Homo sapiens: one gene and its partner. The protein of the gene in region 1 purifies or fractionates together with the protein of each later gene. This does not show direct contact. Each region holds a gene or a part of one and is shown on either strand. Other genes may lie near its edges.

What was found. Proteins that work in one complex are often made in the same cells at the same time.
Region 2: the proteins of WDR44 (region 1) and ARHGEF1 fractionate together in Homo sapiens (co-fractionation; one large-scale study listed by BioGRID). This does not show direct contact.

Annotation. Positions count from the first base shown.
Region 1 is NC_000023.11:118,394,606-118,398,105, forward strand, and holds part of WDR44 (WD repeat-containing protein 44), read left to right. Parts: intron 1-643; coding exon 644-739; intron 740-2,364; coding exon 2,365-2,501; intron 2,502-3,500. UniProt on the Homo sapiens protein: Downstream effector for Rab11 which regulates Rab11 intracellular membrane trafficking functions such as endocytic recycling, intracellular ciliogenesis and protein export.
Region 2 is NC_000019.10:41,893,184-41,896,683, reverse strand, and holds part of ARHGEF1 (rho guanine nucleotide exchange factor 1), read right to left. Parts: intron 3,411-3,500; coding exon 3,381-3,410; intron 2,478-3,380; coding exon 2,378-2,477; intron 2,234-2,377; coding exon 2,137-2,233; intron 2,059-2,136; coding exon 2,023-2,058; intron 1,336-2,022; coding exon 1,198-1,335; intron 308-1,197; coding exon 202-307; intron 1-201. UniProt on the Homo sapiens protein: Seems to play a role in the regulation of RhoA GTPase by guanine nucleotide-binding alpha-12 (GNA12) and alpha-13 (GNA13) subunits. Acts as a GTPase-activating protein (GAP) for GNA12 and GNA13, and as guanine nucleotide exchange factor (GEF) for RhoA GTPase.

The DNA.
Region 1 (3,500 bases):
CTTTATATGCTAGGAAGCGGGCTACACAAAAGACTTGATAACACTAATTTTACCACAGCCAGATTCTGGGACTCAGAGCTACTTACATGGTAGCTGTGGTGGGCCAGGCTACCACACTAGAATATAGGACACTATAGTCTTGTTATAGCCTTAGAGCAGGGGTCAGTAGTGGCCTGCTTTAGGAGGTTCCCCAAGCTAAGAATGTTCTTTACATTTTTAAAGGTTGTTTAAAATAAGAAGAAGAATATGTGACAGAGACTCTATATGAACAAAAATGCCTTAAATATTTACTGTATGGCTCTTTATAGAGAGAAGTTTTCTGACCCCTACCTTTGAGGTAGCCACATACAGTCCAGATTAATAGCAGTCTTAGTAGAGAAATGCCTTTTGGCCAGGTTCAAATAGAACATTTATTTGTTTTCAAGAATACTAAGACATTATTTCATGAGCAGCAATAGTTTTGGTTCCTAATGTTTTTCAGCATGCTGGGAAAAATGAAGGACTGAAACGTAATGTTCCATTTAGATTTTCAGCAGACTCCATTATCTGAATTATGAAATTCTTTAGAATTATATGTGGTAATAATTGAAAATTTATAGAAATTGATTCAGTCTAATTTCTGTTTATAAAATTATATTTCCAGGAAAATGGAAAAGCACCTGATGGGCAGACTGTAGCAGGTGAAGTGATGGGCCCTCAGAGACCTAGATCCAACTCTGGGAGAGAGCTTACTGATGAGGTAGAAATAGATTTTTTTGTTCTTGTTCTTAAAACATAAAGTACAAAAAACATAATGGGAAGATGAAAACGTTCTGGAGATGGATGGTAATGATGGTTGCATGACAATGTGAATGTACTTAATGACCCAGAACTATACACTTAAAAATGGTTAAAATGGTAAATTTTATGTTATGTGTAGTTTACCACAATTTAATTTTTTTTAAGTTTATTGCTGTTACACACAAAAAAAAATACAGAAGAAAAAATGAAAATTGAAGATTGTCTTTGTTGATATGCTGGATGTAGCATCTCTGACTTAAACTTGCCCTTTCACTGTGTTGCATAGTGGAATAAATATATTGAAAGCAAGGTTTATATTTTATAGAAAGTGGGCTTTAAAAGAACTTGATATTGAGGCCAGGTGTGGTGGCTCACTCCTGTAATCCCAGCACTTTGGGAGGCCAAGGTGGGCAGGTCACTTGAGGTCAGGAGTTTGAGACCAGCCTGGCCAACATGGCAAAACCCTGTCTCTACTAAAAATACAAAAATTAGCCAGGCATGGTGGTGTGCATCTGTAATCCCAGTTACCCAGAGGCTGAGGCAGGAGAATCACTTGAACCTGGGAGGCGGAGGTTGCAGTGAGCCGAGATCACACCACTGCACTCCAACCTGGGCGACAGAGCAAGACTCGGTCTCAAGAAAAAAAATTTAAAATAATATAATAATAAAAGAACTTGATATTATGAATATATGTTATACCAAAATAAATTTTTTTATTATTTTAATGGTTTCTTATCATTAAAACTTAGTATGCACCTATTAGCCAACTTATTCAGAATTAAATTTTACAGCAAAATCTTAGTTGATGTTTCTTTAAAACAATACATTTCTTAAAATATTGCACTTTGGAAAACAGTTTGGCAATTCCTCAAAATGTGAAACATAGTGTTACCATGACCCAGCAATTCCGTTCCTTTGTATATACCAATGAGAAATGAAAACATATGTTCACACAAAAAAATGTACACAAATATTCACAGCATCATCATTCATAACAGCCAGAAAGTGGAAACAACCCAAATGTTCATCACTGATTGGATGGATAAATAAAATGTGGTATATTCATACCATGTTATATTTTTTAGCAATTAAAAGGAATGAAGGGATAAAGTACTGATACATGCTACAACATGGATAAACCTTGAAAACATCATGTTAAGTTAAAGAAACCGACATAAAACGCCATATATTACAGGATTTGATTTATATGAAATGTATGGAATAGGCAAATCTATAGAGACAGAAAGTAGATTGGTATTTGCCAGGGGCTAAAAAGAAAGGGAAATGAGGTGTGACTGCTAATGGGTAGGGAATTTCCTTTTGGGGTGCAGAAAATATTCTGACTTAGTGGCAATAGTTGTACAACTCTGTGAATATACTAAAAACCATTGAATTATATGCTTTAAATGAGTGCATTTTGTGGCATGTGAATTATATCTCAATAAAAATGTTAGAAATTATTGTGTGCAGTATTGAATATATCTAAAAAGCCTTTAGCTTAAATTTTAGGGGATTTTGTAGACTCAAAAAGATAATTAAATTGCAGGTCATCTTGGTGTGATTGTTTTTTTTTTTTAACCTCAGGAAATTTTAGCCAGTGTAATGATTAAGAACCTGGATACTGGAGAAGAAATACCTTTGAGTCTTGCAGAAGAGAAACTACCAACAGGCATTAATCCTCTCACTCTACACATCATGAGAAGGACAAAAGAATATGTAAGGTATGGCCTAATGTTGTTATTTGTCATTTCTAGTATTTCAGAGTTGTTAAGATTTCTCTGTTAATGAACTATGACAACCCCTAATTTGGTTTCATTCAGTCTTTTTTCTTCTGGAATTAAAATAGAGTTAGATAATGTATGTATTCTTTAACTTTGCTCTTCATTATGACTGTACAGTTACTTGGGGAAAATAGTATAAATATTAAATCCCATAGCACTTAATTTCTCTTTTTTAATGATTTAAATTATACTTGAGACAATATAAAAACAGTGAGGCAGCCAGGCGTGATAGTTCATGCCTGTAATCCCAGCACTTTAGGAGGCTGAGGCAGCACTTGAATTCAGGAGTTAGAGAGGAGCCTGGGCAACATAGTGAGACCTCATCTCCACAAAAATAAATAAATAAATTAAAATAACAGAAAAATGAGGCTAAAAAGCTATGTAGAATGAACACTTAGTCTTCTGAAACCTTGCTTTAAGGATCATAAATTGTTTAAATATTTGTACTGTTTTTGTAGGATCAGAAAATGGCTTTAAAATGAGATGAGTGACTTTACTACGAGATGTATGTGGATCTATTGAATCATTTTGGTAAAAGCAGGAGCTATTTTATTAAATGTAATGCAGGATGTACTTAATGAGTGGGGAGGAAGATACCTACAAGTTACTTTATTATTTCCCTATAGCACATTTTGCCAAGCAAAAAGGTTTGTTTGTAGTAGGTTTTTCATAAATTTCTAAATTGCATTCATTTACATGTTGTACATTGAACCTTGCTTAAAGATTCTTTTCTTCAATTTCTGAAGCCTTTAAGTTGTCAGGTCCATCATTTAAATTAAAATTATATGGGCCGAGCACAGTGGCTCACACCCGTAATTCTAGCACTTTAGGAGGCCAAGGTGGGTGGATTGCCTGAGCTCAGGAGTTCGACACGAGCCTGGGCAACATGGTGAAACCCTGTCTCTACTAAAATACAAAAAATTAGCCAGACATGGTGGT
Region 2 (3,500 bases), on another chromosome or scaffold:
AAAGGGGGGCAATGAGGAAGCAGGAGGGAGATGAGAAAAGGAAAGAAGAAGGGAGAGGAATGGCCAGACCCAGAGAGCAGCAGAGGAGCATGGGGAGCAAGAGCCTGGGACAGGCAGGCACAGATGGCAGCGGTGACCCTGCACCCACCCACCAGCGCCCAGTAAGCCACACCTCCCGCCCCTGCACCCCAGCCTGGGCACCTCTCGGTTTCGGCCCCCTCGTCGGTACTCTCTGGGGGCGCCAAGGACTCCAGGCTCATTGGGCCCTGCGGGGATGAGTCCCCCAGCTCCAGGGGGGCGTCAGCACCTGTGGGGTGGAGGGAGCAGGGCTGGCTGGAAGGCCTCTGCGGCCACGAGACCCACACTCTGGGGGCCTGGAATTGCGGGGGCTAAAGCTACCCAGTGCCTGGCAGACACCACATGGCTGCTCTGTACTTCAGCACGGGACGGACAGATGTTAAGACCTCTCAGAACATGGCCACTAGGGGCAGGAGCATGAAGATGCAACAGAAGTGGGTGCCCCTGTGTGTCCTGGGTGGATGGGGACCCCAGGCCTAGCAAATAGGTCACAAACATCTCTCCCACCCAACCAGACTGCAGCCCCCTGAGGTCGGGAGGGCCCTGGATTCTGTGCTGCCTCCACGTCCATTCATCCTCCCCACCCTCTCATACTCCTTTAGAGAAAAGCAAACGGAGGCTAAGAAAGGGGAGTCATATCCAAGATACTAAATAAACACAAGCAGTCAGCAGAGCTGGTGTGTGAGCCCTGGCCTGGCCATGCAGAGATCCAAGGGCCTGAGGCCACAGCAGTGTAAGGATGGTGAGGGATGAAGCTCATGGGGCTGGCGGGCTCCCCACCTAGGGGGCCAGCAATGCAGCTCAGAGGGTGGACTGGTCATGTACTCAGGGAAGGTTCTGGAAAAGGAAGGGTTGATGGAAAACGTAGTCCAAGGGGGTGGGAGACGCAGCACCAGCAGAGAGGTCAGAGCCTGGGAGCAAAGCTGTGGAAAGGGCAAACTGAGGGAAGGGGAAAGTTATGAATGACAGTGGTGACCAGGAGCAGGGAGAAGTGGATGCTGAGAGCAAAGGGGAGGTGTTGCTGGGGAATGGCTTCTATCTGGGGGTGCCAAGGGGGCAGGCAGCACCCCCACCCTGGATCGCCGGGCCTCATGGAGCCCTGGCCCAGGAAACTCTCACCTGGTTCCCGGTCTGGGCTGTCCAGGGACAGAGGGTGCAGAGAGACTCCAGGGGTGTCCTGCCCAGGAGCCCCGATATTCCGGTCCCGAGAGGGCATCCCCACGCCTCCCTTCCGGTCTGTAGCACCTGGCTTCTCGGCTGGGGAGACAGTGAGGGAGAAAGAGGGAGATAAGAGAACAGTAACTCAAATCCACAACCGCCAGGGGATGCAAGAGGCTGTGCTCAGGCCCTTCCCCACCATGACAAGGAGCCCCTTCCTCCCTCAGACCCAGGAGCCCTCAACCCCTCCTCCCTCAGACACAGGAGTCCAGGCCCCCAGCCCCTCCTCCCTCAGACCCAGAGGTCCAGGCCCCAGGCCTTCCTCCCTCAGACCCAGGAACTCCCCCAGCCCCTCCTCCCTCAGACCCAGGGGTCTAGGCCCAGCCCTTCCTCCTCAGACCTAAGAGTCCGAGTCTGAGCCGCTCCTCCCTCAGACCCAGGGGTCCAGGCCCAATCCCTCCTACCTCGGACCCAGGGGTCCAGGCCCCAGGCCTCCCTCCCTCAGACCCAGGAGCTCCCCCAGCCCCTCCTCCCTCAGAGCCAGGGGTCCAGGCCCAGTCCCTCCTCCCTCAGACCCAGGGGTCCAGGCCCAGCCCTTCCTCCCTCAGACCCAGGAGCTCCCCCAGCCCCTCCTCCCTCAGACCCAGGTGTCCAGGCCCCCATCCCCTCCTCCCTCAGAACCAGGCGTCCAGGTCCCAGCCCCTCCTCCCTCAGACCCAGGCGTCCAGGTCCTAGCCTCTCCCACACAGGCCCCCAGTATGGATGCTATGGCTACAGGTACATTACCATCAACCTCTGCTTTGAGGTGTCGAAAATCTGGAACTGAAACGAGAGAGAATGAGACAGTGAGTGGGAGCAGCTGGGGAAGACAGGGGAGGGCAGAGGCCAGAGCCGCCTTACCCTGGGGCTCTCCCCGGTTCCAGCGGGCGGCATCCAGGATGCTGCTCAGCCCCTTCTTGGTCTTGGCAGGCTCGTCCGACCGCCGGTTCCCCATCACCTGTGAGAGGGCGGGGAGGAAGACCAGGCTAAGCATCTCTGAGACAACAACAAAGCAGAATTTGACGCTAGGTATCCAGAGTCATGAGGCTCCCAGGGCGTCTCTGGAGAGGAAAGGGTCAGGACGGGGCACTGAGGGAAGCACCTTTTTCCGGAAGAAGTTCCTCCCCGACTTCTTGTCTCCACTCTTGGTCCGCACCCCAAGGTGGCGCATGTACAGGCCAATGGCGTTGACCACGGCAGCACTGTAGGGAAGGGACAGTGAGGGCTCAACACACACAAAGACACACACACACACACACACACACACACACACTCACACACACACTCTCTCTCTCTCCCCCTAGAGGCAGAGGCCCGGCCTTCCCATCCTGACCCCACAACTACTTCCTGTGAGACTCTGAGGAGAGATGAGAGGGTTCAAAAGGACAGGGGCAAGGGCTGTTACCCAATGCCCAGGACCCAAGTGTCCAGGCCCCAGGCTCCTCCTCCCTCAGACCCAGGAGTCCAGGCCCCCAGCCCCCTCCTCCCTCAGACCCAGGAGTCCAGGCCCCCAGCCCCCTCCTCCCTCAGACCCAGGAGTCCAGGCCCCCAGCCCCTTCCTCCCTCAGACCCAGGAGTCCAGGCCCCCAGCCCCCTCCTCCCTCAGACCCAGGAGTCCAGACCCCCCAGCCCCCTCCTCCCTCAGACCCAGGCGTCCAGGCCCCCCAGCCCCCTCCTCCCTCAGACCCAGACGTCCAGGCCCCCCAGCCCCTTCCTCCCTCAGACCCAGGAGTCCAGGCCCCCAGCCTCCTCCTCCCTCAGACCCAGGAGTCCAGGCCCCCAGCCCCCTCCTCCCTCAGACCCAGGCGTCCAGGCCCCCAGCCCCCTCCTCCCTCAGACCCAGGCGTCCAGGACCCCAGCCCCCTCCTCCCTCAGACCCAGGCGTCCAGGCCCCCCAGCCCCCTCCTCCCTCAGACCCAGGCGTCCAGGCCCCCCAGCCCCCTCCTCCCTCAGACCCAGGCGTCTAGGCCCCCCAGCCCCCTCCTCCCTCAGACCCAGGCGTCCAGGCCCCCCAGCCTCCTCCTCCCTCAGACCCAGGAGTCCAGGCCCTCAGCCCCCTCCTCCCTCAAACCCAGGAGGCCGCACGCCTCCCCTGCCCCCCTCACCTCTTTTCTTCGTCGGTAGAGATGGTATGTCTGTAGGAGGAAGAGAGATGTTTGTGACATATTTGCTAGGCCTGGGGTCCCCATCCACCCAGGATACATCTCAGGGTTGCTGTCCTGGGA